Homo sapiens: one gene and its partners. The protein of the gene in region 5 purifies or fractionates together with the protein of the main gene of each other region. This does not show direct contact. Each region holds a gene or a part of one and is shown on either strand. Other genes may lie near its edges. The genes, in order: GJA1, CNNM1, TMEM120B, SLC12A7, GPR21, SLC12A6 and KCNJ8.

Evidence for each region.
Region 1: the proteins of GPR21 (region 5) and GJA1 purify together in Homo sapiens (affinity purification with mass spectrometry; 2 studies listed by BioGRID and IntAct, with this or other methods). This does not show direct contact.
Region 2: the proteins of GPR21 (region 5) and CNNM1 purify together in Homo sapiens (affinity purification with mass spectrometry; 2 studies listed by BioGRID and IntAct, with this or other methods). This does not show direct contact.
Region 3: the proteins of GPR21 (region 5) and TMEM120B purify together in Homo sapiens (affinity purification with mass spectrometry; 2 studies listed by BioGRID and IntAct, with this or other methods). This does not show direct contact.
Region 4: the proteins of GPR21 (region 5) and SLC12A7 purify together in Homo sapiens (affinity purification with mass spectrometry; 2 studies listed by BioGRID and IntAct, with this or other methods). This does not show direct contact.
Region 6: the proteins of GPR21 (region 5) and SLC12A6 purify together in Homo sapiens (affinity purification with mass spectrometry; 2 studies listed by BioGRID and IntAct, with this or other methods). This does not show direct contact.
Region 7: the proteins of GPR21 (region 5) and KCNJ8 purify together in Homo sapiens (affinity purification with mass spectrometry; 2 studies listed by BioGRID and IntAct, with this or other methods). This does not show direct contact.

What each region holds. Positions count from the first base shown.
Region 1 is NC_000006.12:121,434,331-121,438,445, reverse strand, and holds the start of GJA1 (gap junction alpha-1 protein), read right to left. Parts: upstream 2,801-4,115; 5' UTR 2,614-2,800; intron 1-2,613. UniProt on the Homo sapiens protein: Gap junction protein that acts as a regulator of bladder capacity. A gap junction consists of a cluster of closely packed pairs of transmembrane channels, the connexons, through which materials of low MW diffuse from one cell to a neighboring cell.
Region 2 is NC_000010.11:99,335,253-99,339,673, reverse strand, and holds part of CNNM1 (metal transporter CNNM1), read right to left. Parts: intron 1-4,421. UniProt on the Homo sapiens protein: Probable metal transporter.
Region 3 is NC_000012.12:121,774,331-121,778,751, reverse strand, and holds part of TMEM120B (transmembrane protein 120B), read right to left. Parts: intron 4,095-4,421; coding exon 4,030-4,094; intron 3,691-4,029; coding exon 3,622-3,690; intron 3,144-3,621; coding exon 3,030-3,143; 3' UTR 1-3,029. UniProt on the Homo sapiens protein: Necessary for efficient adipogenesis. Does not show ion channel activity.
Region 4 is NC_000005.10:1,073,459-1,077,879, forward strand, and holds part of SLC12A7 (solute carrier family 12 member 7), read right to left. Parts: coding exon 4,375-4,421; intron 3,355-4,374; coding exon 3,236-3,354; intron 2,779-3,235; coding exon 2,680-2,778; intron 2,033-2,679; coding exon 1,913-2,032; intron 1,214-1,912; coding exon 1,109-1,213; intron 344-1,108; coding exon 175-343; intron 1-174. UniProt on the Homo sapiens protein: Mediates electroneutral potassium-chloride cotransport when activated by cell swelling. May mediate K(+) uptake into Deiters' cells in the cochlea and contribute to K(+) recycling in the inner ear.
Region 5 is NC_000009.12:123,032,041-123,036,739, reverse strand, and holds GPR21 (probable G-protein coupled receptor 21), read right to left. Parts: upstream 3,074-4,699; 5' UTR 2,998-3,073; intron 2,570-2,997; 5' UTR 2,174-2,569; coding exon 1,124-2,173; 3' UTR 1,075-1,123; downstream 1-1,074. UniProt on the Homo sapiens protein: Orphan receptor.
Region 6 is NC_000015.10:34,327,180-34,331,600, forward strand, and holds part of SLC12A6 (solute carrier family 12 member 6), read right to left. Parts: intron 1-4,421.
Region 7 is NC_000012.12:21,764,135-21,768,555, forward strand, and holds the end of KCNJ8 (ATP-sensitive inward rectifier potassium channel 8), read right to left. Parts: intron 2,490-4,421; coding exon 1,589-2,489; 3' UTR 821-1,588; downstream 1-820. UniProt on the Homo sapiens protein: Inward rectifier potassium channels are characterized by a greater tendency to allow potassium to flow into the cell rather than out of it.

The DNA of each region.
Region 1 (4,115 bases), on a different chromosome or scaffold from region 5:
TCTAAGTAACAAAGCAACCTTCAGTATCTGAAAGCACAGCCTTTTATCTGCCTCCTGCGGAGCATCTTTGCAACCATGTTTCCCAAGGAGGGTGACAGCATTGTTGGTATCACAGTCGCCAAGGGTGAGGAACTCAGTGGCTGGGTTGAGAACCCTCAGAAGGCATTAGAAAAATGTGGAACATGTTTAAACAGTGAAGAAAGTAGGAGCAAAGCACTAACACTGCATTTTCCCAGGTAACCAGTCTACCCTGACTTTGGGAAGTACAAAGCACCCCCACACTGGGGGAACAATGTTCTAATAATATAGAATCAACATCGCCAGGACGGAATGGAATGTACTGCCTTTGCTTGGTATAATTTCCAGTCAATTCGGCCTACCCAGAAGTAATTAGTCTTCTCCCAAAAGTGTTTTCTGTCTAACTGGCTTATTTCATTCCTGGCGCGGGGGGGAGGGGAGCGCTCGCTTAATGAAATCTCTGCATTACTAGACGCTTTAATTTCCAGTTATCCTTGCACAAAAGTAAACATTAGGCTTCCTCACAGGGACACTTTTCACCGAGTTCAAATGCGCCCGATTTTCGGAGGGCGATATTCAGTATCTTTCTTGTCGTTACTAACTGGGTCGAGGAAGCAAAAGAAATTCAACCGTCTTCCAAATAAAGCCACGCTTCTTTTTACAACATTGTGTAGCTCTCCCCTTCCCACCCCTACTTTGTACCTGGAGAGAAAGAGAAGCACGCCTTTTGGGAGCAAGGAGAGCTTATCGATGAGCGTTATCAGAAACCCCCAGCAAAGGCTGGCTGGGTCACTAAAGGGGCAGGGTGGGCGCAGCGCTGCTACGACCGTGAGGCGCGCGTCTCGGAAACAGGCTGACTTGCCCCGGACGCGTCATCAGCTTCCCGAGGGTCTCTCCTCCCTGCCCTTTCCCCTTGAGCCGCCCCGCCTCATTCTCGGGAAGTTTCAGGAACTTCCAGGGGAGTTGCAAGTGCAATTTAAGCACAATTCCCAAGGTATTCAGGTTTTCTTACCAACGCGGAGATAGTGGGATTCAGCAAGTTTAAGAGGAAAAAAGAAAAAGAAAAAAAAAAAGGGCTGGTGTGAGAGGGATGGGAAATTAGATTGACAACTTTAATTAAATCAACCATTTGTTCTACCATTTGGCACCCAGCCCATCTCTCCTCCTATCCCTCCCACCCCGCACCCCGGGTTCCTTTGCAGTGACGAACTCGGACCTGAGTTCGATTTGACTTGTGAGGATTTGGGGGAAACGTCCCAAGACCGAGCTGGTTCGGGCAGCGAAGGCGCGGGAAGGATCCCGGCAGACGCTAAGATGGCAGGAGGCGCCCCGCGCCCGTCCGGCCCACGGCCTCCGCAAAGCTTTCATTTTTATTTGCTTTTCAGCATTCACTGGTGCAAATACTTCCACTGCAGGGTCACGTCAAGAATCTAAACTAATTATTTTAGTTTGTAGATTTACACAGAACAGAAAATCTTTACCGGGCACAAAAATGCATGGCTGCATTTCTGATGAACAGAATGGGTGTTACCAATAAAAGTATTTTAAAAATTGAACCCTTTTAAACAACGCATTAGCGTTATCTTTGCCCTAGGAGCTCCAACTCCAAAGAACTGCCCCAGAGTTCTGAATTCTGTTACAGGTTCGAGCAGAGGGAAGGTGCGGGGCGGCGGGTGTTGGCGGGGGGAGCTCCCAAAGCGCTGTTTAAGAAAGTTTTTTTCCTGCTCTTTCTAGGAGCTCCCGTTTTAGGAGACGGTTTTGGAAAAGTACCCTGGCATACACTCTTTTTTAAACGTCTGATCTCTAATGCTCTGTAACTAGCCACCACCCATTCAAGAGATTTCATCTCCTAAACTGCCAACGTGGTCGAGTAAAAGCTGTCTCTCCTGAGGGTCTCAAATCTTTCCATAGCGGTTGCTAACACAAAGTAACAATTTACTGTTGATTTTTAAAGCATAATATTAATACTCTTGAATTTTATACCTTTTTGTTTAATGGGGAAAATTCTAGGAAGGAACCACGTGGAAGTCAAGTAACCACGATGTTTTAACAAAGCACTTCGTCACAAAAGAAGTTGGCTTTGCAAAGCTATAGAACATCAATCAAGATTTCCATATGAAAAAAGCACTTTATTCTATGAAGTGTAGAATACTATAGGAAGCACGCTAAGCAAATTTGCACTTTGATTTTTCCGATGTAGTCAGTCAAATCCCCCAACCCAGGCGCCTAACCGCCCCCCCCCCACCCAACAAATGATAGCACCTAGACTATTACTGATTACAAAAAAAAAACAAAATAAAATGATACTCTAAAATGAAAAACCAAACATCCAGTAAACTAATCCTTTATTCTAATCGGAAAGGTTTGAACCTTTTCACCTGTTGCAATGTTAATAGAAACTTTTTTAACAGTCAAAATATATATTTGGTACAATAAATTTTAACTTTAAAACTATAGAAACACTTTCAAATCCATCAATCCATTTACAGTATCATAATTCAAAATTACATTTAACACATTTTAAAACTTTAGAAAAGTTTTACTTGTAGAAAAAGAAACTAATAGGTAACGTGTTCTCATTTTTTAAAAACTTACTCTTTTGCTTAAAAGTAGTGAAGTCACGCCAAGTGATTGAACTCCTTGGAGGATGAAGTAAAATGAAAAGGCAAGTTCAGGCACTCAGACCTGTCTATTTAAAGTTTAAAACTCCGCTGCTGTTTGGTACTTTCCTCACGCCTTCCCCCTAATGAAAGAAAAGTGCTGATACCTCGTAAAAGCTTTTTTGTAACTTGGAGCACAGAGCTTTTAAAAGTTTCAAGCCACTGACTCAACTGGGAGGAGGGGCTAGAAGAAAGGGGAGGGCAAAGGGAAAGGCTGGGAGGAGGTAGGGAGGAGGCTGGTAAATGTGGAAGGGCTGGGGGGAGAAGAGGCAAAGAGCAGCAGTGGGATCAGGATAAAGTTGTAGTTTAAATTTGCTGATGAGGAAAAATAAAAAAGCATTAGGGACATGAACGCCTCTACTTGGAGTTGCTCCTCACACATAAGAATCATTGATTACACTGCTTGCTTCACCAGAAGACCAGGGATAATGGGGGAAAAAGGTGTATATTTTTATTACAACATTGTCTAAAATTTTTAAAGTAGCTTACAATAAATAAAAATGGTGGGGAAGCATATAACCAGTTCAAGCTTGTTTCACATTGACCAAGGTGTGTGAAGTTAGAGGTAGGTGTGAGTGACCTGTTTGATGATCTAATTCCCTTCCTTTAAATGTAAGCAAGGACAATTAACAAAGGGAATGGTGGAGATGGGAGAGAGATTTCAAAAATTGACATAGATGAAGAAAAGTCCATACCCAATCCATCTTTCAACCCCTTGACTGCTTTGAATTTTTACTTTCTTTCAGTTTAGCAAAAGGCTGTGTGTGTATATACATTTTTTACATATATAGCATGTTTTGTTTGCCTATGAAATCTTGATATCTGACCTCTACCATGTCTCCAGAAAACTAAGAATTTATATTAAGGCCCTATTTATGCCAAGACACTAAAACCCAAATCTGTAGTGAAATGTGAGGATTTTAAAAATACAGACTATGGTTGCATTAAGTAGGTTCCCAAACTATTCAGCCCTCCTTAAAATCAGTTCCCCCTCTCAAGCCCACTAGAGAGTTTTCTGCCCAACGACAGTAAAGCTGAGCATATCATCTTTATGTGCTTCCCTATCCCCTTCCAAATGCTCTCCCTCTTCAGGGCTCTGCATTAGGGTTTATAATGGCCTGAGTCATGTGGCCTCAATCTTAGAGCAGGCAGCTCCTCTGAGGGCTTCCCAAATGCCATAACACAGTGTTGTGGTAGGACAATTCCTCATAAACAGGCTTCAGTGATGCTCCTGAGGTTGGACAGGAAATTTCTTGGCCAGTATTCTCTGGAGGGAAAGCAAACTCATCTGGCCTTCCTATTCCTAACACTTTTCTCACTCAGGCAAATACCAGAAAAAAGAAGGATGCCAAATATATTCTGGTAGACACCGTTCCCTAATTAAACTTTCACTGAAATGACTAATATAACATCTTTTGAAATGTTGCAGGTTTTTTT
Region 2 (4,421 bases), on a different chromosome or scaffold from region 5:
ATGATTTTTCCATGAACTAGGGTGGGAGGGGGCATGGTTTGGGGATGGAACTGTTCCACCTCAGATCATCAGGCATTAGATTCTCACAAGGAGCACGCAACCTAGATTCCTTGCATATGCAGTTCACAATAGGGTTCTCGCTCCTAATGCCCCAGCTGATCTGACAGGAGGTGGGGCTCAGACAGTAATGCTTGCCCACTGCTCACCTTCCACTGTGTGGCCCAGTTCCTACCAGGCCACAAACTGGTACCATTCTGCAGTCTGGGGGTTAGGGACCCCTGCTTTGGGCAACAGACCACTTGCAGGAAGACCAAAGATGGAAGAGGATATTTTTAGCTCCATAATGTCTGCCTAGCTCACCACTGTATTCCCAGAGTCTAGTGTAATGCCTGGCCCAAAGCAGGAATTCAAAAAATGTTTACTGAATGAATCAATGAATAAGCAAAGACTGAGTATGGATTGTGCAGTAGGCTGTGTTACAGCCATGCTAGTGTACAGGTGGAGCAGCCTAGCATACGTGGGTTGTGCTTTTTTGTTTGCAAAGATGGTGTTACTAGCCCAGCAAAGCTGAATTGTTTAATTGAGTTAAATGTCAGTCAGTGCTGTATTACTCAGAAGCTTTGACTTCAGAACAAAGCTTTATTCCTTTCCCCTGTTGTCTATACAGAACTCAGTGTCTCCTAAAAGCAATCCAATAATAGAGTAGTAAATTTAAGAAGTATGATAAATCTCTACGGCTCCATTTTTAAAATTAGTCTTCCCAAATTATAGCACTCAACCCTGAGGAAACTATAGCAAAAATACCACCCTATAAGAAAATCACTCTTAAGATTAGAATGGGACATTTGATTTGTGCTTGATGGCAGGACAATGGGCTTTTCCTTTTGTTTTCTTTTTAAGAATTTCATTAAGATTGTTATTATGTGCAATATATTTTTAATATGACAAAATATTGAGTTACTATTTCAGGATAGTGGGATGATTATCCTCATATGATTTTCATACTTCTTTTTTCTACTATTCTATATTTAAATTTTTTTCTGTATAAATTATAGAAACATAAACTTCAGTAAAAAATTTATAAAAGCAAAATATGACTGGGTGCAATGGCTCACACCTGTAATCCTAGCACTTTGGGAGGCCGAGGTTGGCGGATTGCCTGAGCTCAGGAGTTCGAGACCACCCCGGGCAACACGGTGAAACCTCGTCTCTACTAAAATACAAAAATTTAGCCGGGCATGGTGGCACATGCCTGTAGTCCCAGCTACTTGGGAGGCTGAGGCAGGAGAATCGCTTGAACCTGGGAGGCGAGATCACACCACTGCACTCCAGCCTGGGCGACAAAGTGAGACTCCATCTCAAAAAAAAAAAAAAAAAATGCCACCTAGTCATAGTTATTGTATCCTCCATGTTCCCATTGCATTTTTGCATTTCTAGTATAGCACTTTCATTTTAATGCTTTATGTACCAAGGTCTGTCTTACCCATATCCTGTACTTATATACTGAGACATGACTTGTAAATTCAAGGTCACTGGAAGTCATGGGAAAGGTGAGTGTCCAGCTTGCCTTCTAGCTTTGCAAAGGGAAGTGCTATTCATCCACTATGCTTTAGGCTCTTTGGGAACAGAGATTTTATCTCATACCCCTAACTCTTAGCACAGTGCTTTACATGTGAAAAGAAATTGTTGTAATAAATATTAATAGATGTACCTAAAGAAGCTGAGAAACAATAGATGCAACACTTTTCTTCTAACACTAACAAACTTATAAGTTTGATTTGTTCTGCTGCATAGTCCAAAATGATTTAATTCATTTTCTAGTGCTCTGCAGATCTCTTCCATTATATTAAAGTTTAACTCCTTAAGTCATCCATTCAGTCCTTAAACAAACATTCATTGAAAATTTACTATGTGTCATATGCATCGTTAGCTGCTGGAGCTACAAAGACAGATAAGACAGTTTTGCCCTGGAGATGCTCATTATATGGGTGGGAGGCACTTATAAACAAACACTGGTAGTACAGCTTGTTAGTTCAATGATTGAGATATGCACATAAAACAATGAAGCTGGCCAAAAAATCTATTTTTGTATTTTGGGGTTTACAGGAGAAGTCTCCCAGAGGAGGAGGCCCCTGAGCTGAGTGTCAAAGAGCTGGCAATGAATTAGTCAGGCAAAGCATATTCCTGACAGAAGTGCAATGTGAATAAAGGGACAAAGGCAAGAATAGCACAGTGCACCACAGAGTTCAGCATTGCTGGAGGGTAAAGCTGTGGCAGGGAGTGGTGAGCGATGAGGCTGGAGGGGAGGGCAAGAAGCAGGTCATGAGTGCATTGCTGGCTGCCTTACCAGCTTAGCCTCTCTCCCGTAGGCAGCGGGGAGCTGCTGAAGGGTTTTAAGCAGTGACATTACTGGAGATTATTTTAGTGGCACTAGAGAGAACGAATTTGAGGGAGACAAAAATGTGAAAAAGTGTAACTTCTTAGGAGGCATTTGCATAAATGAGTAATAGACTTGTGTTTATATTTAATAATCATAGCTAACATCTACTTAGTACTTACATGACAGGTAGTAAGTAAGCATAATGCGATAGTCTTAATATTTCACACAATCTTATGAGTAAATATTAGTATTATTTTCATTTTACAGCTAATGAAACAGACATAAACAGTTAAGTAATTTGCCCAGGGCCAGTATCAACCCAGGCATTCTAGTAAGTCTTATGTTCTTTTTTTGAGACAGGGTCTCATTCTGTTGCCACTGGAGTTCAGTGGCATGATCTTGGCTTACTGCAACCTCCCTGCCTCAGCCTCCTGAGTAACTGGAATTACAGGTGTGCACCATTACTGCCCGGCTAATTTTTGTATTTTTAGTAGAGACGGGGTTTCACTGTGTTGGCCAGGCTGGTCTCTAACTCCTGACCTCAAATGATCCACCTGTCTCGGCCTCCCAAAGTGCTCGGATTACAGGAGTGAGCTACCACGCCTGGCCAAATCTTATGTTCTTAATCACTATCCTGTTCGTTTAATTTCTGTTTCCTGTATTAGAGTGAAGCTCTATAGAGACAAGGACTATGTTGATGATGTTCTCCACTGTGCCAACACAACTATTTGTTGAATAAAATCAGTGAATAACCTAAGTGGAACAAATAGTGGATTAAATTATGTACAGATTTAAGAAATCGTCATGCACTGCTTAACTATGGAGACACTCTCTGAGAAATTCATTGCTAGGCAATTTCATGATTGTGTGAACATCATAGAATGTAGTCACACAAAACCTAGAGGATATAGTGTACTACACACATAGGCTATATGTTATAATCTATTGCTCCTAGGCTACAAACCTGTAGAGCATGTTACTGTGCCAAATACTGTAGGTAATTGTAACACAATGGTAAGTATTTGCGTATCTAAACATAGTAAAGGTAATGTGTTGCCTTAGGACGATGTTAGGTGTTATGACTGCTAGGACATCACTAGGTGACAGGAATTTTCCAGCTCCAATGTAATCTTATGGGATCACCATCATACATGCAGTCCATCATTGACCAAAATGACATGACTGCAGTTGGATGCAATATTGGCATCCAATTATTTGGCCAGCTTTGGTGATTGTTATGGACTGAATGTTTGTCTTCCCACAAAATTCATATGTTGAAGCCCTAACGACACCCAGAGAGGCCTCTAAGGAAGTATAGTAGTTAAGATTAAATGATGGCATAAGGGTGGGCCCTAATCCAACAGGATTGATGTCTTTCTAAGAAGAGAGGACCAGAGCCTCTTGCTGTCTGTGGACAGGCACTGAGGAAAGGCCATGGAGAGAAGGCACCCACATGCAAGCCAGGAAGAACGTCCTCACCAGAAACTGAGTTGGCCAAAACCTTGATCTTGGATGTCAAAGCCTTGAATTGCGAGAAAATAAATTTCTGTTGTTTAGGTCACCAGTCTATGCTATTTTCTAATGACAGCCTGTGCAGACGACAATGATTAATAGGATGAGGTGAATGCAAAGGAAAGCTTTCTAGTCTGGGAGACTAAAGGGACAAGTGGTGCCACTTACTGGGGACAGAGGCCCATGAAGAGGAAGAGGAGAGATTTGCTGGGATCAAGGAACAACATTAATTATTCCGTACTTAGGGTTCACCTCACTCAAACATAGAAATATAGAAGTTAGGTATTTAAAACCATTTATTCAATAAATGGTTATACATCCCCTAGCCATGGCGGTCACTATACTTGTCCTGAGAATACAAAATAAGTAAGATTCATTCTCTGTCCTCAAGGAACTTACAGTCCAGTGGTGAGAAATATTGTTCCCTTTTGTAAACCTCACACTCTAGTGTGAAAGACCATTTTCCTCTTCCCCACTTCTAAAGACTTGCAACTCATAAGAAGTAAAAAGATAAAATCCCATATCATCA
Region 3 (4,421 bases), on a different chromosome or scaffold from region 5:
AGCAAGTTTTCTGTGGACTGTTCCCCCCACTGTGGTAGGACAGGACTGGCCCACTTAGTCCTCAAGCTCCCAACCTGCTGTCCCTCAAGCCCCGCTTCTACCAGCCTGTGGAGTTCAGGAGGCGAGACATCCTGGCCTCCTTTGAGAACTGATGGGATCTACCCCCTGTCCACGCGGGACAGTTTCTCAGAACTGGTTCATAGACCACCTGTGTCACCAACAGCCAGATACCTAATCCCTGAGCCTCCTTTGGGAAGGTCTGGGGCCGAGGGTCTGGGAATTTTTTTTTTTTTTTTTTTTTGGGACAGAGTCTCATTCTGTCACTCAGGCTAGAGTGCAGTGGCATGATCTTGGCTCACTGCAAGCTCCACCTCCTGGGTTCAAGCGATTCTCTTGCCTCAGCCTCCTGAGTAGCTGGGACTACATGCGCACACCACCACGTCCGGCTAATTTTTGTATTTTTAGTAGAGACAGGGTTTCACCATGTTGGCCAGGCTGGTCTTGAACTCCTGACCTCGTGATCCACCCGCCTTAGCCTCCCAAAGTGCTGGGATTACAGGCGTGAGCCACCGTGCCCGGCCCAGGACTTTTAAAACAAGCATCCCAGGGGATTCCGGTGCCTACCAGAAGTCGCAAGCTGCTTGGCTCTGGAGGGCGCCTAGGAGTCGGTGTCGCCTAAGATGGGATAATGGCTTCAGGCAACTCCTAGCCTTCCCCATATCTCCTGCCTCAGCCCCCCTGGCCCAGTGCTGGGGCGTCAGCTAAACCTGAGCTTCCAAGAAGTCAGGTTGCCAAAGGAAGGAGCCTTCTGAGACCCTCCCCAACCCACCCAGGTTCCCAAGGCCCTGCCGTACCCTGGGGAATCAACCAAGGAGTTCTTGTTCTCGAAGAACCCCAGGCCTCATGATGGTCTACGGTAGAGGTCCAACAACTACAGCCTGTGGGCCACATCTGGCCACAGCCTGATTTGTAAATAAAGTTTTATTGGAACACAGCAACACCCATTCCTTTCTGCATTGCCTTGTGCTCTGGGGCTGCAGGTGAAGAGTAGCTGCCACAAACCACCTGGCCCATAAAGCTCAAAATAGTTGCCATCTGGCCCTTTACAGACAGCTAGCTGACTCCTAATCTAGGGCAAACGCAGGTGCCTAAAAAGGACCAGAAAGGAGACCAGAATGAAGGGCAGGGGGGTGGCAGGGCCTGTGGCAACTGGAGAGTAGGCGTCCTGTGCCACGGGAATGTTGCCAGGTCCGTTTTTCTAGGGAAAGCAGAAATCTGGATTTTTATGTGGAATCTCACTGTAGGGGTGGGGAAATCTCATTTTAAAAATGTAATCAGGCCAGGCACAGTGGCTCACACCTGTAATCCCAGCGCTTTGGGAGGCCAAGATAGGAGGATGAGTTGAGCCCATGAGTTGGAGACCAGCCTGGGCAACATAGTGAGACCCCATCTCTACTAAAAAGTATTAAAAAGTAGCAGGGTGACCAGGCATGGTGGCTCACACCTGTAATCCCAGCACTTTGGGAGGCTGAGGCAGGCAGATCACAAGGTCAAGAGATCGAGACTATCCTGGCAAACATGGTGAAACCCTGTCTCTACTAAAAATACAAAACAAAACAAAACAAAACAAAAGCCAGGCATGGTGGCACGCGCCTGTAGTCCCAGTTACTCGGGAGGCTGAGGCAGGAGAATCACTTGAACCTGGGAGGCAGAGGTTGCAGTGAGCTGAGATTGTGTCACTGCACTCCAGCCTGGGTAACAGATCGAGACTCCCATCTCAAAAAAAAAAAAAAAAAAGGAGCAGGGCATGGTGGTGTGTGATTGTGGTCCCAGCTACTCCAGAGGCTGAGGTGGGAGGATCCCTTGAGCCCTGGAGGCGGAGGCTACAGTGACCTATGATGCCACTGCACTCCCGCCTAGGCAACAGACCCTGTCTCAAAAAAAAAAAAAGTAATTAAAAATTTTAAAATTCCTTGAGGAGGGCTAAACAAGGCATGCCTGTGGGCACTGCTGTGAGGTCTGGCCTAGGGATTTGTAGGGCCACAGTTAGGGGGAGCTGAGGCCCATATATGAATGGTGGGGCAGAGCACTCAGCCAAACCTGGTGGCCTCTCTGCCTCCCGTCGAATGCAGAATCTCACCCAAGCGATGCCCAGTGGCTCTGACCCCGCCTCAGGGTGCGGCCCCTGGGGGTGAGCCTGCCAGGCACCCCCACCTCCCTCCCACAACATCCAGAAGCTCTGGGAAGGAGGGGGGAGGTGGTTCCCCTCCACAGGGGCCAAGGGTCTTGGTCCCACTCTCCAAGTACCTGCCACGACACTGCAGGAAGGTGGGCTGCAGGATGGGGGGGTCAGGGAACCCCGAAGCACAGACGGGAACGTCCTTGTCCCCTTGGACGACCCAGGGCCCGGGGCGCCCTCTGGTGGCGAATCTTCTCACAGCCTGACTCAGGATGCCCCCAGCGCTCCAGGGGCAAGAAGAGCACGAGGCAGACGCGGTGGGTCTCTGAGAACTTAAAATAACCCTCACCACGTGGCGGGGTGGGCGAGGAGGGGGCTCACAGCAGAAGCAGAGTGGCCCCGGGGTGGGGGCGCCACAGGACACTGAGGGTTCACACCACCCCAGCCTGGGCCTGGTAAGTAGCAGGTCAGCATAAATCCAACCCCGCGAGGCACATCCAAACCCCACCCAGAGGGGTTCAAATGACAGGAGTGGGAACAGAGGGGCTCCCTGAGGCTTCAGGCCCCATCCCCAGGAAGACTGGCCCGGCCTCAGCCACCTTCAAGCACAGGAGTGAGGCCTCGGGTTCCAGGGACGATGGGGGACCCAGCATTAAATATGTCATAAATAGGTGGGCGGACACTGTGCGGACAGGCGGGGCTCACATTCCTCTAGACCACTGGGGTCCACTGGGGGACCAGGGCCTGGGCCCTCTCCCAGCGATGCCACGGGCCTGAGAGGGCTGCTGGGAAGGAGCCCGGGAGCCCCCTGCAGTCTGAAGTCCGGGCCGAGGGCACAGGAGCCCGAGGCTCACGGCTGCTTTGTCTTGCCTCTGTTCTTCTGGAGCTTGGCATGCACGACTTTGAGCGTGGTCAGGAAGTTGCCGAGGAAGAGGATGAGGAAGGTGAACGCCAGTACGAACACCTGGGGGAGTCCAGAGAGGAGGGCGAGGCTGGGGCATCTGCCCTGCTGAACCCCTGCCCCCAGCACCCCAGAATCTCCAGCACAGCTGCCCCCAAACTCCCAAACTGCAGGGTTTTGCCATCGAAGGCAGAGATTCAGGAGACCTGGGGGAAGGGTGAGGCCTCAGGCTTGGGCAGGGCCTGGGAAGGGCTCGATGGGGCGAACCTCCTTGGGATCCACAGATTGGGAGAGGCTCCACCCCTAGCCCTTCCAGAAGCCTCCCGCCAAGCAGGCCCCCCACAACACCCCACACCTGCCAGCCCAGCCCGCCCCAGGAACCTCCCCACAGCACACCACACACACGCACACACCCCACCCCCACATCTGCCATCCCAGCCCTCCCCAGGAATCCGCACCCCAGCATGCCACACATACACCCCATCCCTGCCACCCCAGCCCTCCCGGGAACCTCCCCCGAGCATGCCCCCACCCCCCATACCTGCCATTCTCTGCATTCCTCGTGGCTGGAGAGCTCAAACAGCGTGACGGCATTGTAGAGCTGCCAGAACTGGAGAGGAAGGCAGGCGCTGCTCACCCACCAGACTCCCCTGGCCGGCCACGTAGAAAGCCAGGGTGATGGCCAGGCCCCTCACCCAACTTTGGGTATCAACTACCCACAACACTGACAGACACCCCCAAAATGAAATGCAGGCACCCGAGGCCAGGGCAGAGCTAGGTCAGTTCTGGCTCCTGCCTTGGCATCCCTGGGCCCAGAGGCTGCCCCGGCCCCAGGATGCTGTGGGCCCCAGCATGGGGACGGATGGAGAAGGAGGGCAAGGCCTGAAGACCTTCTGTTCCTGGGGGTCAGCCCAGACAGGAGATACCCACAAACTCCAGGGGGACTCACATGGCCACAGAAGAGGAAGGGCAGGAGAAAGGTGAGGCCCCGCCACATCCAGGACTGGAACCCTTCTGTGGAGAGGAGGGAAGAAAAAGGACCCGCTGAGGGGGTCCGCTGCCCCCACAGCTCCACCAGACGCCCACCCCCAGCCACACCAGTCACCCTAAGATGAGCCAGGGACAGTCACACATGCGGGGGGTCAGCCCTCACCTGTCATAGCTGGGTGGGCATTCACTATGACAATAGCAACCCTGTCACCTGGCCTGACTGCTCTCTCTCTTCAAGCCACCAAGAGCCAGGTGACAACACACAGACACTGGGCGCTATGTTGTTACTAATTTCTTTAATCTGCACAGGGTTTTGCATTTTATAATGAATTTTCACATGCATTAGTTCTA
Region 4 (4,421 bases), on a different chromosome or scaffold from region 5:
GTGCTCCCAGGCCTTAGCGCGCTGCTCTGAGCTCAAAGCCACCGCCACGGCTAAAACACAGCAGCGCCACGCACAGCACCGTGTTGACACGCTGCGATGAGGACATGCCAGGGCACGTTTCCTGTGCAGCTGGGGTGGGAAAGAGGCCTGGCCCCCAGACCCCGCCCGGCCCACCTCCTCGGCCCGCTGAGCCTCCATGTGCTTGTCCAGGTACGTCCCCTCCAGCACCGAGCCCACGATGGTCAGGCCCTTGCCGGCCTTCAGCTGCGACGTGAAGGACAGCAGGCGGGGGTGCTTCACGGCCTGCTCCGCGTCCAGGTTCAGCATCACCAGCACCTGGGGCCTGCAGCCAGGGTGGGGCGGCTGTTACCACGGCAACGCTTACCAGGGCACGGCCCATCAACAGGCAGGGCAGATGGGACGGGCGGGGCACACGACACAGGTGGGACGGGAGATACATGACAGGCGGGACAGGGGACAAAAGGGGCAGGTGACAGATGGGATGGGGAAACGTGACACACGTGGGGTAAGTTGAACAGGTGACAGGTGAGACAGGCCACAGAAGCCAGGTGGGACAGGCAGGGCCGATGGACAGGTGGGCACTAGCCAGGCAGGACAGGAGAACAGGTAGGTTAGACAGGTGGGACAGGTGACATGCTAGACAGGTGAGACAATGGCCCAGGACACACACCTGAAGCCCCCACCGAGGCCCTGAGGGGACAATGGCCCGGGGCACACCCGAGGCCCCCGCCGAGGCCCCTGAGGGGACAATGGCCCGGGGCACACACCTGAGGCCCCCGCCGAGGCCCTGAGGGGCAGAGGCTTCCCAAAGATGGCCTTTGCTTCAGCAGGAGCCACCCTCTCCCACCCCAAGCCCAGGGCTGTGCTGGCAGAGGGGCCGGCTCCCCACACCCCCACCCTGCAGCAGGGACACCCCCGGCCCCCAGCTGCGCCATCCGCTCTGCACCAGGCAGTGTTCACACCCCAGACCTTGCCTGAGCGGCTGAAGGTGAGAGGCCCCTGAGACTCAAAGGTCCCCACTCAAAGGCCGACCTCAGAAACAGCTCTTCTGTGCGTCTGAGGACCACGGGGCATGGGCGGTGCTCACCTCCAGTTCTTGGTGTGGGGGGGACCGTGCTCCACGCGCAGCAGGGCGTAGCGGGCGGCGTTCAGGGATAGGCCACGGATGCCATCGCCCCACTCCTTCTCGGCCCTGTGGGAAAGGAAGTCGGGGTTTGTCCAGCCGCGTACCTGGAGGCTCCTCTCCCACCTGGGAAAGGGGACTTCTGGGGGCAGGTGAGTTGGGGCAAACAGGACCCCCAGGAAAAGTCCCTGGATGAGGAGGGAGGCCTCCATGCCCACCCTTGCCCTGAAGGGAGCCCGTCCTAGGAGCCACCGGGTCAGAGGGTGCTGTGGCTGTGGAGGGAACGAGGTCTACGTCCAGCATGCGTGAGGTGCCTTCCTCACAGGACGGGGGACAGGAGGCCCATGACAGGGAAGTGGCTGGACCCCGGGCACGAGGCGGGTGCAGGTGGAGGGAGGGTGGGTGCTGGGGCACGGGGAAGGACGCCTGTGGCTGCCGAGTGAGTACAGACACAACCTGGGGACACCTCGCGAGACACGTAGCAGGAATAGTCAGCCGTGGGCTCACCGCCTGCTGAGGACGGCACGAGACAGAGCTCCAGGCTGGAGACCCTGTCCACAAGTGCAGGCACCTCGGCCTGGCTGGAAGTGGGAGGGAAACCCCAGCTTTCACAACACAGCCCACCTGGACGTGCTCCCAGCTGCCCCTGTGAGGGCACACGACGCTCAAGCCCCAGGGAGGCCCCTCCAGGGAGCTGCCCCAGGCATAGCATGAGAGGGGCCCGCCCTCCCGTGCGCCGGGTCTGTAAGGGGGGCTGACAGCGCTTACCCGCGGTACTCGATGTACTTGTAGATGCAGCCAGCGATGAGCATGGCGGACAGCGCGTAGTACCAGGAGCAGATGAACATCAGCGCCAGGCACAGGCTCATACCCAGAAAGGACAGGGTCCTGGGGGCGGGGCAAGTGGCTCGGGGCGGCCCAACGCCATGCAGCCCCCACACCTCAGCCACCACCACACGGACACTGCCCCTCCCTCAGTAAAACTCTCTGTTAACACTAGGAAAACAGTCACTGACGCCTGACGACCATGGCTGTACTCAACCACCTCTGAGGGGTGACGTGGCTCCCTGGGCCCCTGTGGGAGCTGTCACTCCAAAACCCAGTACATAGCTCCAGCTCCCAGCGTGCACACAGCACCTCGGCTGTGCATGCAACAAGGGGCTGAAGCGTCCACCCAGCGCCTGATTCCTGGGGAGGGGAGTTAAGAAGACCCACAGCCCTGATGGGCTACGCCCCAAGCCTGGGAAGGCTGGGCTGACCACGGGAGGTACAAGGCACATGCAGACACCTGGGCATCCTCGTAACCAGAGGCCTTCCTCAGGTGCAGTCTCATCAGCTGCGCAGGGGCTTACTCCGCAAAGGAACAGTCAAGGACGCGCTGGGGTCTTCAGGCCCAGAGCAGCTGGCCTTGTAGAGGCACCCAGTGTCCCAGCCTGTGGGGCTCCTGACGCCTGTGCTGAGCGGCCTCACCAGTGGCAGAGGCACCCAGTGTCCCAGCCTGTGGGGCTCCTCACGCCCGTGCTGAGTGGCCTCACCAGTGGTAGAACTTGAAGCGTGGACGCCAGTTGGGGGTACGTAGCAGGGTCTGCACGGCGCAGGCCAGGTTCACGAACAGGTAGCACATGAGGAAGAACCTGCAGGGACGGCCGGCCACTGATACGGGCCCACTGGGCCCCCCTGAGCCCCCAGTCACTGCCACCTGGGAGACCACCCTTGTCACTGTCCCTCCCACCTGCGCCTTGTCTCCCCATGTCTGTCTCTGCACGTGAGCTGACTCAGACTGATTCCGAATCAGGCCCCCTCAGGTTCCAGCCATCCTGTGACCACCTGGTCCATCAAGAGATGGGCCATCGTCCCTTCCCCAGCAGCCGTCTGTCCAGCCACACTGTCCCTGGCTGACCCCAGCGGGCGGCTGCCTGGAGGCCTGTGTACTTGTCTTCCCCGGCGCAACTCCCTTCCCGGCAGGATCCTGACTGCCCACAGCTGGCCATGCCTGTCTACTGCTTGTCCTGAGCAGGACCTCCCATCCACACTGCCCCACGCTCCAGGCCCATACACCCATCCCCAGGTCCCCGTCCTGTGGGGGCTCACATGGAGAGGATCGGGGCCACGCTGTCCAGAGAGGCGATGAGGATGCCAGTCTCGCAGATGAGGACTGTCAGCAGCAGCGCCCACGTGGGCTCCCCGTTGGCCTTCCCGTGGCCAAACACCTGCAGGGAGAAGGGCAGGAAGATGGGGCAGATGACACCACCCTTTTAGGAGAGAAGCTGCAGGCTGGTCAGGTCTAGCCCAGATGAATCTTAAAGACACAGACCAGCAGAAACGCCTTTCACAGTAGGTCCCCGGGACATCACGCGGCTGGCCTGGGAAGAAGCCCTGACAAAGGGCTGCAGCCCAGGAGGCTTCAGAGCTGTGCCTACGCCCGGCTTGCCTGCAACCTGTGTGGCCCCAGCCTGCCCCCCCGCCTCAGTTTCCCCGACCACACAACACAGGACCAGCGTCTCCAGGGCACTCGCGGTTCCCCAGACCCTGTGGTGACCTTTCTCATCAGGCCACCCTCACCTCCCAGAAGCTGAGGCCCACGGGGCCTGTGTGCCTGTCCCCTTCCTGGACACCATGCCCTAGGCCCGGCTGGGACTGAAGATGCAACCACACAAAGGCCCTGCGGGTCGGCACCCTGCCGAGGGACCAGCGACGGGCAAGGATGGCTCTGCCATCCACGACCTTCCCACAGCTGCCCCTGGGCCCAGGTAGCAGGAGGAGCCACAATCGGCAGCTCTGGGCACAGCACACGGACAGGACCCATGCGGGCGTCCGTGCAATCCTCAGAGCAGCCACACACACTGGCTGCAGGTGGCTGGTGACGCCACCTCCCACGGGCTGAAGAGCTCAGCCACACAGAGAAAGATGTGGCAGGCAGGCAGAGGGCTTCTGACCAGACAACAGACCAGGCACCTCTGGACACGTGGCTGTGGGCCCTCACAGCCGCTCCTGACACACCCGGGGCCGAGCTCGGAGGGACCTGCAGGCAGGAGGGCTAGAATTGCCTCTGCCCACCACCCACCTCCCACCACTCCCATGCTCTGTGCAGTGGCCAGGGGCAGAATGACCACCATGGGGTCCAAGCCGCGGGCATGCGTCCCACACACGGCACTGTGAGGATCCCGCAGGGGAGGAGAGCCCCCGACCCTGACCTTCCAGGGTCCCCCCGACGAGGGTGCGGGACTCACCTGCAGGAAGGGGACGATGCCGTCACGGGCAATGGCCTGCAGTAGGC
Region 5 (4,699 bases):
CTCCTCTTCAAATGTGGATTCCTTAGCACTAACTGAAAGAATACTTTTCAAAAATAACTAGTTGATTCCATTTAACCACAAAGAAAATGTCTCAACTACCTTGTATTTTAAAAAAACAATCTGTATACTACGGTATACTTTCTGACTCAGTTGCTTATGACCGACACCCTTCTCCCTGATGTTCTAATATTTCAGAAGTCTTTGAATAGAAAGAACAGACAATATTAAAGACACATTTTTGTATATAGTCACCATTATAAAATGGACAGCCAACAGCCTATCACTGAATTACTTTTTAGCTTAAGCACATTTTGCTGTAAAAGAGAAATCTAACAATTCAGATATTCTAAATATAGACATAACACAAAGGCATGGGCAAAAGTACTACACGATTACTTCTACGCACACATATCTTTAGATCTCTGTGAAGCATGGCACAAAAAGTAGCTCAGTTTTTCATAAATTGTATAATTTGATTGCACTTTTGCTTCATGGTTCACTGTAAAATTCTAAAATTAATGTTTATGTGTTCACATTATTCACCCTACTGAGAATTCTCTCAAGAGAATAAAACACAGAACATTTGGCTTTCTAAATGACAGTGTTGAAACTTGCAGTGTAGTTATGCTTTGGCATACATAAAAAGTAATTTCTAAAACCTTTTCATTTATATTTTACTATTCCGTTAGAAGAAATCAATTGCATATGAAGCCCAAATAGCTGGAAAGAGCCCAGAAAGTGACAAGAAAGTGATGACTTTTTAAAATGCTGACGCTTTTCACACTCAGGTTCAGTCATGCCAGCTGGAAAGAGGTGTTAGATATGGCTTTATTCATTTTAAATCTGAGAACTGTAGTCATTTCCAAGACATTTCAAAAATTGAGAGCAAGAGCAATTTGTCTTCATGATCTTGAGTCTTCTAATTCACAAGCACTTTTGAAAACCATTTCTACAAACTTAGAAGGTATCCATACGAATAATTTGTATGCTATTGTTTAGAGTCAAAGTATTCTGTCCCAGATTTCCTAGTGAATTAGGAATACTTAGAGATAAAATACACACACACACACACACACACACACACACACACACACACACACGGGAACCCCGTAACTGAGCCACTTCAGATATGACATCCATTAAGAGGGCCTTTGCTTCTAACTGTGTAAGGGTCGTTGGCTGTAGTCTGACTTGCACAAGAAGTACACATAGCCCCTGAGAGGCGCTTTAGTCCTCTTTGGAATACACTGTTGGAGAGACTATAAATTACACAGTTGCAGAAACTGTTACTAATAGCAAGCCAGGTGGTCAAGAAGGATGCGAAGCGGTTGCTGTGGCCAGTGGAGCTTTCCAACAAGAAGTAGATGATATATGGCAACCAGAGGATGTAAAATACACTAGTGATTCGAAACAGGACCATGGCATAGCGCTTATCAGGACAGGCCTGCACTTCCCCAGTCTCCCCACTCTGGCTGCTGAAGCGGGCTTGCCTTTCGCTGATATCCTTTGTGTGCTGTTGGCAGATGCGGAAGATGTTGAAATAGGTGAAGCAGACAATAAGGGCTGCTGGGGCATATAACATCATCACGATGAACAGGGTGAAGTAGGAGTCGGTGTGCCAGGACTCCGCACACCACTGAAACACATCTCCATGATATCCAGGTTTGCCCCAGTGGAAAAAGGAAGGCAGGAAGACCAGGGTCGAGTATAGCCAAATCAGGAAAATACACAGGCGTAGTCTCCAGGGTGTAACCAGAGTATTATAGGTTAAAGGTTTAGTAATGGCAATGTATCTATCAATGCTGATACAGGCCAGAGAAGCCATGGAGACGCTCTTCAGAACTGATACTACAAAACCAAATATCTGGCAAGTCAAGGACTCCTCTACTGGAAGGGGGTGATGGAGGAGTGATAAAGAAGGGACCACGCAGCTCACCCCAACAAAAAGGTCAGCATATGCCATAGTCTGGATAAAATAACTTGTAGTGTGATGGTTCAACAAAGGTGCACAGTGAAATACAAAAATCACAATGATGTTGCCAGAAATAATCAATACAGTTAGAAAGACAATAATCAATACTTCCAAAAGGCAAAAATTGACAGTTTCCAAATAGCCAAATGCCAAGAGGCAAAAAGGGTGGCTGCTCTGATTACCATCCAAGGTGGAGTTCATCTTGAGCTCAGGAGTGATCTGTCACTTCATGCTGCCGCTTGGCTGCTGCCAACAGTTCAAAGAAGCAGCTGCTGTCATTGCGGTCAGCTTTGCATGTGTGTAATAATGCCAGAGGAGCCTTACTCCCCAAGCTCCTGATGCTGCTGCTCTGGTGCATTGCCTGCAGTGCAATTCCCCTTTAAATCCTTCCTGGAATAAGGAGAGCCAGCAGCAGTTGTCTGGCCAGTCCCAGACGCGGCCATAGTGCCAGGTTCACCATACACATAGCACCAGGGGAGCAAGGTAAACTCTGGGGAGAACGTCTTCAGGCCAAGTGAGGGTAGGGGGAAAGGGTAGAAGAGAAGGGAAGAAGATTAGGAGCTTCAGCAGGAGTTGTAATGAGTCTCCTCTGAACAGCTGATAGAAGAAAAGGAGAGAGCATTTTACATTTCACATCCAATGCCCTAATCAAAGAACCTGGCTAGCTCAGGCTGGCATCATCCCTCCCGCTCCACCCCTACTGGCACCACTATTCACGGCTACCCTCAATAGCACCCCACACAACTGATCTGTACTGTATAGAGGAGCAGCAGCAACATCAAGCTTTCAAGATCAGCATAAAACAAAACCAATCACAGTCAGATTAATTTACCCCCATTTCCTTTCATTTGAGACGGGGGAGAAAAGGAATTTGCTTATAATATTTAGGAAAACCTTTCACTACAATTACCACTAATAAAATTAGCCAAGATAATTTACTTTCTTCATTGATTCCAATATAATATTTTGCCTCTTTGAAAACATTTCAACAGAATTTACTGTTTAGTTCAATTTCAGAATGTTACCTGTAATTCTGCATGCTGCAATCCAAACAAAAGCCACAATACATCCTTAGCAGAAAGCCTTGCAAAGCAGGAATGTGCTTCAACCCGCGTACTGCAGAACTAAGACACGGAGGGAGGAGATAAAGGAGTAGGAGGGGAAACAGGGAGAAGAGGGGGCTTGGGAAAAGGAAGAAAGGGGGAGGGGAAAGAAAAAGCCTGTACGTGCACACACTCTGGCATCTTTAGCAACTAATTGGAATTCATCGTCAGAGAGGTGCCCCGATTTCCAGACTGCACAGTGTGGGAATGGCTTGCTATGCCTGCAGTGCACCATTTGAAGGCTGTTTCCTCGTCTGTCTGGAATCCCCCTTTTAGTAGATAAGCAGAATTCAGGGTGCTAGCAAGGAGAAGGGGTAGTAACAGAACAGGGTGTCAGGAATTAGACTGAAACACACTACCAGAGGGGTAATTTCTATTTTCTCACGGCATTTTCCCAAAGAACAAAGAGCAATATTAAAGAAAGGAAGTATGTTAACTTCCTTTAAGTGTATGGCGTATGGCAACTGAGAATCATAATTCAGCTGCACAAGAAGTTCTAGCTAGAAGGCTATTCACCATTAATTTTGTCTCTCATGATTCACTGAATATTGGCCAAGAAACTTTAAGATCACTTTTTCAAGAGAAAAATAAAGTATCTCCCATTCTGAATACTACACAAATAGCACAGATAAATTACACTGTTCCCATATTTGACACTACGCTATAATTTTGAGATGCATTTCTTGCTTCTAATTTGCTGAGCAGTAAACAAGAATACAAACAGAAGATAGAAAAGTAAATGTACCTTCTTCTACTCAGGCATGGATATTACAGGAAGTTTCATGGTACAAATAAGCCTTTGTATCTTAGAATATACAATCTTGCTTCTGCCTATTTAAAACAATGCAAACTGTATCATATTATATTGTGGTTTTCCTGGTAATGTCATAAATGATGACAATTTTCAGCTAACAGAGTTGGGTGCTATGAAAATGTGTAATTTTAGTATCTTTATTTAGAAGGATTAATTGAAAGTATCCAGCAGAATAAAAGACAATAAACAAATGCCGGCATTTGAAAGCATTCCAAGAGGTAGGCAACTGAGTAAAAACATGTGATCCAACTTTCATTTTTATTCATTTTATACACATGCTTTCTAATTACAGACAAATGGCCACCCATAATCAGAATGCGATGAATTACATTTTAAATCTGAAGCAGCAGCAGTTGTCTGGCCAGTCCCAGACGCGGCCATAGCCCCAAAATAAAAAACCTATTTAACCGTAATCCTGATAGTAATATTTGACAGGTCTTATTGGGAAACAGAGCGAAGTGTGTGGCACAGTAAAAAGACCAATAGCATCGAAGGAACAATAATCAGGTTCAAATTCTTGCTCTAATATTACTTATCCTCTCTTAAGCCTCTGTTTCATCATCTGTAAAATGAGAACAACACTCCTTACTTCACAGGGTTGTTGAGAAATAAAGTATATAAAAAAGGCTTACCAACACCTAGCACAGAGGGGGTATATAACTTTACTCACTTTCTGCTCCTACAACTAAAGTAGCCTTCCTTAAGAGCCAGTGTTTTCCTGCCCATCATGTTGAAATGCTTAAGGCTGGGCTCCTCTGAATCCTGAAGGGCCTGCTCTTACTGAGGCTATACAGTTCTAGGTCATACAAC
Region 6 (4,421 bases), on a different chromosome or scaffold from region 5:
TTTTTCAAAAGGGGAAAGAACTGACCTCATCTAATAGGGAAGAATATTTTTCTATTCCTATCAATTCTTAAAATTTCATTTGAAATGTAGCATGCTGCTGAACCAGAAAAAAATAAATAAACCAAACATAATCTTTTGTTTGCATCTTAGGATGTAAATTAGCCAGCTGTAAAAAAGGCTGTTAAAAAAACAAACAAACAACTTTAGCCAGGCACAGTGGCTCACGCCTGTAATCCCAGCACTTTGGGAGGCCGAGGCAGACAGATCATGAGGTCAAGAGTTCGAGACCTAAACATGGTAAAACCCCGTCTCTACTAAAAATACAAAAATCAACCGGGCATGGTGGCATGCGCCTGTAATCCCAGCTACTCAGGAGGCTGAGGGAGGAGAACTGCTTGAACCTGTGAGGCGGAGGCTGCAGTGAGCCGAGACCGCATCACTGCACTACAGCCTGGGCAATAGAGCAAGACTCTGTCTCAAAAAAAAAAAAAATTAGATATGGTAAATGCAAATGCTCTCAAAATAGAATAAAAGTAAATTTTGGTTAGATTCAATTTCTCATAGCTCCTCAAAGTGAAAACGTGGATGTGTACATAAGAGTTTTTAACTTATTAGTGTTCTCTCTTCTCTCTTTTTTTAAACTAGCAATATGAAAAATAAATAGCTTTACCCCAAAGTAAATGTAGACCTGTCTGGTAAAATGAGAGAAATTCAGGTGCTACTTTGCCAAAAATTAAAGTTATTTACCAAATGGTTATGACTATAAACAGGTGAATGTCATCAATTGAGTTTTTTGCTCAAGGCCACGACAAATATAATGAGGATTAGCAATGCCGTAATAAAACTACAAACAAAAAGCTGCCATTGGTTAAATTAGCTAGAAAACTGGAGACTGAAACCCAGCTCTGAGCTAAGATAACAGGAAATTTTAAAAAGAAAAAAAAAAAGACTAAAATTAGAAGACCTGTCATTTCCTAACAATGTGGCTTTTGTTTTCTATTTCTACAGTTTTCAACTACAAAAACTGAAATTTTAAGAAGAAAAAAACTTCAGCCGTTACATTTTTTTCAGTTAAGACATCCAAAGGTAACTTCAAAACTTCAGGTTTCGCAAAGCCCCTCAGACTGACTTATTTACAATACTGACTTGATTCTGAAATCTTGTTAAGTATAAATTCCACTTTAACAGTAGCTTAAAAATTCTTCAAAAGTAAGACGCACCTGAATATCAGAAATGTTAAAATATGGTAATGTACACACCTTAGAGCTGAGCAAATATGGTGATAGTGTTTCCTACTCATCAGGTACTGAACTACCATTAAGGCAAGGTGCTGTATGCATGTGTATATGTTGTATGTTCTGCAGTTTTGTGCTTGTACCTTCAAATGTAATTGTTGAGATTCTTAAAAGTATACCAGGGCCAGGTGCGGTGGGTCACACCTGTAATCCTAGCACTTTGGGAGGCCGAGATGGGCAGATCGCTTGAGCTCAGGAGTTCGAGACCAACCTGAGCAACATGGCAAAACCCCATCTCTACCAAAAGCCAATACAAAAGTTAGCTGGGCATGGTGGTGCATGCCTGTAGTCCCAGCTACTCAGGAGGCTGAGGTGGGAAGATGGCTTGAGCCCAGGAGTTCAAGACTGCAGTGTACTACAGTTGTGCCTCTGAATAGCCACTGCCTACCCAAGTCCAGCCTGGGTAACAGAGCTAGACCCTGTCTCAAAAAATAAAAACATATATACACTGAAGCACTAATTACAGGGTTTTAACAGAGAATAGCTTCTTGTTTTTCCACATACTTGTAAAACTTATAAAACTTCATTAAAAGAATACATTGTTTTAACATTCAAATGCTCACATAATTCCTACACTATAGCTCTCCAAACTTTCATACCTACTCCTCAGAAACACACATCACCAAAAACTTAAACTCATGTAACTTCATTATTCTGAAACAACAAGCTCACCAGCTACAGCTGTGTAGACAGTGCACGAGGGCATTAAGCCAGAAGGGCAAGGGGAAGAGGGTTGAAATCCAGCTTGCCCTTCTCCAGTGAAGTCATGATGGCTCAGGGCACAAAGGAGTGCCTTTTTAGAATTTGCACAAAGTTCTTAGTAGTCCAGAAGTATATGTTAGACACGAAGGGCAAAAGAAGCAGCAGCCATAATTCAAAAGCTTACAGCATTATAAGTTGCCTTAAACATCAGCATTAGAAACATTCCCCTTCTTCTAACAGCTTTAAAATGGGAAAGCATAACTTTCATAAGGTTCCCAGGTTTGCAGGAGTACCTTCTTTCATTTCCTTCCATTCCAGTAAAGGTAATATCAAAATTTATGAGAATCTGGAATCTAGAAACATGCCACTGAGAACAAAAGAATTTGGGCTCATGATGGAAAGACTTAGTGAGGACACAGAAGAGACCACCGAAGATCAAAGACAAGAAGTTGAGGTAATCACTGTATTGATCACTGATATTTAATCAAATATCTACAGCATTCTAGGACACACTCAAAAGAAAATCCTTTAATTGTAATTTAACCTTTTTAAAAATTGGCCAGGCATGGTGGCTCATGCCTGCAATCCTAGCACTTTGAGAGACCCAAGTGAGAGGATCACTTGAGCTCAGGAGTTCCCAGACATCTTCAAAGATAAAAGCTAAGAAATAGTAAAATGTACCTTTTACTCTACTTCAACAAATTATAAACATTTGCTAATCTTGTTTTGTCTATCTCTCCCCAACTTTTTTGGGGAGGAGTGGGGAGGAAGGAGCTGGAGTACATTTCATTTAACCTGTAAATACTTCAATATATATCTTTATAGATAACAGCTTTACATTATCACAATGTCATAAACATCTATAAGAAAATTAACAATTCCTTAATATTAATATCATGTACATGTTCAAATTTCCCCCACTCGTCTCAAAAGTATCTTTTTTCAATTGTTTTATGCACATCAGAATCCAAACCAAGTTCACACACTGCATTTGGCTGATACGGCTCTTTTTATCTGTAACAGCTTTCCCTCTCTTCCCATCACTCCTCCTCCACCCCATCCCAATTATTTGTTGAAGAATCTAGTTATCCAATAAAACTTCCCATATTCTGGATTTGGCTGATTGCTTCTTGTGGTATAAAGCAGTATATTATAAAGTTTAATCTGGCTACAGAGTATAGAGAAGAGAGGAAAAACAGTTAAGGTATATAACCAGCTGGGCGCGGTGGCTCACGCCTGTAATCCTAGCACTTTGGGAGGCTGAGGTGGGCTAACTGCTTGAATGCAGGAGTTCGAGACCAGCCTGGGCAACATGGTAAAACCTTGTCTCTACAAAAAAAAAATTAGCTGGTCATAGTGGTGTGCACCTGTGTTCCCATCTACTCAAGAGGCTGAGGTGGAGGACTGCTTGAGCTCAGAAAGTTGAGGCTGCAGTGAGCCGTGATCACACCACTGTATCCAGCCTGGTTGACAGAATGAGACCCTGTCTCAAAAAAAAAACAAAAACAAAAACAAAAAAAACAAAACTATCAAGAGGATGCTTCTTTCAGACAAGCTAAGAAGGTACCAAATCAACATATTTTAGCTATTAGAATGCTGAGGTAAAACATGGATAGTATTCAATAATTATATAATATAGAAGACTTATTTAAGAGAAAGGTAATAGTCCATCCTGGCCAACATAGTGAAACCCTATCTCCACTAAAAATACAAAAATTAGCTGGGTGTAGTGGCACGTGCCTGTAGTCCCAGCTACTGGGGAGGCTGAGGCAGAAGAATCACTTGAACCCAGGAGGCGGAGGTTGCAATGAGTGGAGACCGCACCATTGCACTCCAGCCTGGGCGACAGAGTGAGACTCTGTCTCAAAAAATAATAATAACAATAATAATAATAAGTAATAGTCACCTATGATTAGCAAAACAATATAATTCACTTATTTTGGTGTGTGACTAAAAATGATAATTTTGTTTTTTGTTAGGTTTTGTTTGTCAGGGTAGAGGTATTTATTTATTTGAGACAGAGTCTCGCTCTGTCATCCAGGCTGCAGTGCAACTTCCGCCTCCCAGGTTCTCATGCCTCAGCCACCTGAGTAGCTGAGATTATAAGCATGCACCGCAACACCTGGCTAAGTTTTCATATTTTTAGTAGAGACGGGGTTTCACCATGTTGGCCAGGCTGGTCTCGAACGCCTGGCCTCAAGTGATCCGCCCGCCTTGGCCTCCCAAAGTGCTGAGATTACAGGCGTGAGCCACCGCGCCCAGCCTAGAGGCATTTTTTGAAAAGCTCTCTAGATCATTCATTATGCAGCCAGATGAAGTAGCACTACTCTCGTACATACATTAATATGCCTTTATCAGAGTACGTTTTTAATTTGTCTCTTGTTTTTAAGTCTACAAGATCTTCAACTCAATGTATATTTATGG
Region 7 (4,421 bases), on a different chromosome or scaffold from region 5:
GTCATGGCTTGATGCCTGAGTGATTGGAAGAAAGACTGGGAGGAGGGCAGCTTTTGTGAGTGAGAATGAAGTATTTGGTTTTAGACCTAGTAAGTTTGAAATGCTTGTTCAATCTCCAAGTGGAGCCTCAGGTGCCTGTTTGATCTGTGAGTCTGGAGTTCAGAGGAACAGTTAGAACCCTTTCAGGAATGATTAACTCAATGACGTGATAAACAGTTTCTGTTCACCTGGTTGGAATCATGAGTCTTAAGATAGAACATTTCATAATTACCTATTTCAATGTTCATAAATACAAACCCCCAAATCTGTGTGAAAGATTTCACAATAGCTCAGCTTTCTGATGTTTAGCTATAAAATGTAAGAATAAAAGCATATATAGTTTATTAACCTAGTACTTCTCTCTCCTGTCTCATCCCTTCCTTGAAGAAGCAGGCACTAAATATGCTTAAATGAAGCTTTGATAGAAAATCTCACTTTAGCAAATGAGATGATGCTAAATCTATAAATGCCAAGCCTAAATTCAGATACTACTGGGAAGGAAGTATAGTTTTAAGATGGGAGATTGAAGATTAAAAAAAAAAGCTTATAGGATTTTTATGGTATGTCAGGCTTAGATTGAAAAACCAAGAGGACATTTTAAAACCTGAAATAAAATCAAAACAAAGCAAAAAAAAGCTAGTTTTGGAGCAAACAGACTTGAGAGAGAGGAATCTCAGAGTGAGTGTTATCACTTTGACATCTCTTTTACATGGCTCTAAAAACATCTTGAGTTTTAACTTGGGATGATTTTGTGAAAGAGGAATCACAAAACTACAGTGAGTACAAAGAAAATGTTTTAATAAAATATTCAATACAGTATTTCCCTGTGGGGATTCTAGAAGAAGAAGTGAGATGCTGAAGGAAGTGACTGTCACTGTGGGGAACCCAGTCCTAAATGAGACAAGACTTAGCTTTCCTTCAAAGACACCTTGTCCAGCTCTGCCCAACAGGCCGCAATGAGATGGACCAGGAAACCTTCAGGAGTCACCGACAGACAAAGCGAATGAACTGAATCCACTTACAAACAGATCCACTTAAGCAGTTTTTGCCTCAGGCTTCCTACCAAATGCAGTTATCATGGAGACAGGAGAAGGCTGATGTACAAAACGCATTAACATGATTTTGTTTTTTCCCCTCCTATTCTATTTGCATTTCCAGAGTGATCATTAGTAACACAGCGATCTGGGTTTCACCAACTAAGCATTTCAAACAGACTCATTTCTTGACCAAATTTTGTGCTCAAGGCCTGTTACTATTAGTGTAATTCTTGTGTTTCAAATTGAGAGAAACGAGCATACCCACCCCTGCACATAACTTAAGTATATCACTGCGAATTCTACATGTATGAAACAAGCATAAGCCATGAATCCTCCACTTGGTGTGTTACTTTTTATTACTACAGAAAGTGCTGTTGCTTGAATATGAATATCATTTAGTGTAATAAAATGTAGAAGGACACATTATTGTGTTCCAGCTCTGGTTCAGTCTGGCAGTGCCCAGCATAAACCGTCAAAACTTGATAAAAGACTGTCTTGGGGTTATCTTGCTGTCATGATTCCGATGTGTTTTGATTTCCTTCTGGAGTCATAAATTGCACCTTTGGTACCATGAGGGAAGAATTGTTCCTTCGGATAGAATTGTTCCTCCTCATGGAATTGTTTCTTCTCATGGAGTTGCGCTTCCTCAGAGAATTTTGATGAGACAGTTCACTCTTTTGGAGGGTCTGAATAAGGATGGAAGGTTTCTCATCCAGCTCTCGGGCACTGCACCGTGGAGCAGCTACTTTAACAGTGTTGCCAAATTTGGAGTAATCCACAGAATACACTCCTTCTTCCTCAGTCACAATGGACACAAAGCGGTGGCCCCATTGGATCTCCTCAGCAATGTAGGAGGTTCGTGCTTGTGTGGTGATGCCAGTAGTTTCAACCACTCCTTCCAGAATAACTATGACCTCCAAGTCTTGGTTGGCCAGGTCAGTTGCTGAGATGTCATACAGGGGACTGCGCTTGTCAATCACGTGGCAGATGATCAAAGGGGCCACCAGAAAAATGTTATTGCTCTCGATTGGGTTATCAACAGGAATGTCCAGTTGGTGAATAGGAACCACCTCCCCTTCAGGTGTAGTTGTTTTCTTGACCACCTGGATGCGCACAGAGGCACTAATGATCATGCTTTTCCTCAGGTCACCCACTCGGAACATGAAGCACAGCTTGCCATTTCGGACGGCAATCACAGCATGGCGGCTGAAAATCAAAGTTTCTGCCCTTCTGTGAGCCTGAGCTGTTTTCATGAAAATGCAGCCTAACATGACTGCATTGATGATCAAACCCACAATATTCTGGAGAATCAAAACCGTGATGGCCAAAGGGCATTCCTCTGTCATCATCCTCCCTCCAAACCCAATGGTAACTTGAACTTCAATGGAGAAGAGAAAAGCAGAAGTGAAAGACCTGTGAGGAATGATATCAGAAAAGAACACCATCAGGTCACATTTTGAATAATGAAATATGCCAAGCTGAGCTTTTCATTTTCTTCCACCAAAGACTATTAAATGCTTGCAGAAAGACTAGCCAACTTAAACTTGTAAAATGCCTAATTCTAAACTGTGTTTAGAACAGTCTCTCTCTCTCTTGCATGCATCTACCTCCAGACTTCTGGAGATTAACATTCTATTAATTAAGTTCCCTTAAGCTAAGGCCTAATTCTATTAACATTCTATTAATGTTTCATAGGTCACATAGTGATGGGCCTAATTTGTGTAAAAGATTAATATATTTTCATATATATGCATATTTTACCTTGCGAAATACTTCACTTTCACAAAGGCACAGTTTACTTTGTAAAACTTTCTACCAGGTAGATGTTTATTATTTATTGCGTATCTATGTTTAGGAGACTTGAGTCATATGGAAGGTACTGAGTACTGAGTGAATTTATTATTTATAATCTTTAAAATCATATTCATTAGCTAATACTTATTTTGTGTCTCATATAGAAATAGCACAGTGCTAAAAAAACTAGTATAAAACACATTATTCCAAACAACTAGTATTTTTAATAGAAGGGAGTTGTTTTCCATTTGGAAAGAAAAGTGTCTTATTGATGATCTAATTTTGTTAAGTCAGGGGTCCCCAACCCCCCCCCCCCCCACCTCCAGGCCAGGGACCAGTGCTGGTCCATGGCTTGTCAGGAACTAGGCCACACAGCAGGAGGTGAGTAGTGGGTAAGCCAGCATTACCGCCAGAGCTCTGCCTCCAGTCAGGTTAGTGGAGGCACTGGATTCTCATGGTATAGTGAACCTTATTGTGAATTGCACATGTGGGAGATATAGGTTATCCCTCCTTATGAGAATCTAATGCCTCATGATCTGAGGTGGGACAGTTTTATCCCCACACCATCCCCATCCCCCACCCCCATCAGTGGAAAAATTGGCGTTCCGCAAAACCAGTCCCTGGCTCCAAAAAGGTTGGGGAGCACTACTCTAGGTGTTCTGGAGAATACTGAAATGATTAAAGGGAGAACTAGGGGCAGAAACTAGTAAATGACTGTGTCAAGGTCACATACAGATATGCCTTATTTTATTCTTCTCTGCTGTAATGTATTTTGCAGATACTGCATTTTTATAAATTGAAGGTCTGTGGCAACCTTCATCCAGCCAGTCTATTATCACAATTTTTTCAAAACGTGCTCACTTTGTGTCTGTGTGTCACATTTTGGTAATTCTCACAAAATTTCAAACTTTTTCATTATTATTACATCAGTTACCATGATGTGTGATTAGTGATATTTGATGTCATTATTGTAATTGTTTAGGGCAGCAGTCCCCAGCCTTTTTGGCAACAGGGACTGGTTTTGTAGAAGACAATACTGGGGGGTGTGTGTGGGGGGAAATGGTTTCGAGATGAAACTGTTCCACCTCAGATCATCAGGAATTAGATTCTTACAAGGAGCCCGCAGCCTAGATCCCTCACCTTCGCAGTTCACCGTAGGGTTCACACTCCTATGAGAATCTAATGCCCCCACTGATGTGACAGGAGGCAGAGCTCAGGAGGTAATGTTTGCTCCCCCACTGCTCACCTCCTGCTATGTGGCCTGGTTTCTAACAGGCCACAGACTAGTACTGGTCTGCAGCCCAAGGATTGGGAACCCCTAGTTTGGGGCACCATGAGCCATGCCCATATAAGATGGCAAACAATCGATAAATGTGTGTGTTCTGAGTCCTCCACTGACCAGCTGTTCCCTTGTTTCTTCCCCTTTCATCAGGATTTCCTATTCCCTGAGACACAGCACTATTGAAATTAGGTCAGTTAATAGCCCTACAAAGAACACTAAGTGTTCGAGTAAAGGAAATATTCGCTGTCTCTCACTTTAAATCAAAAGCA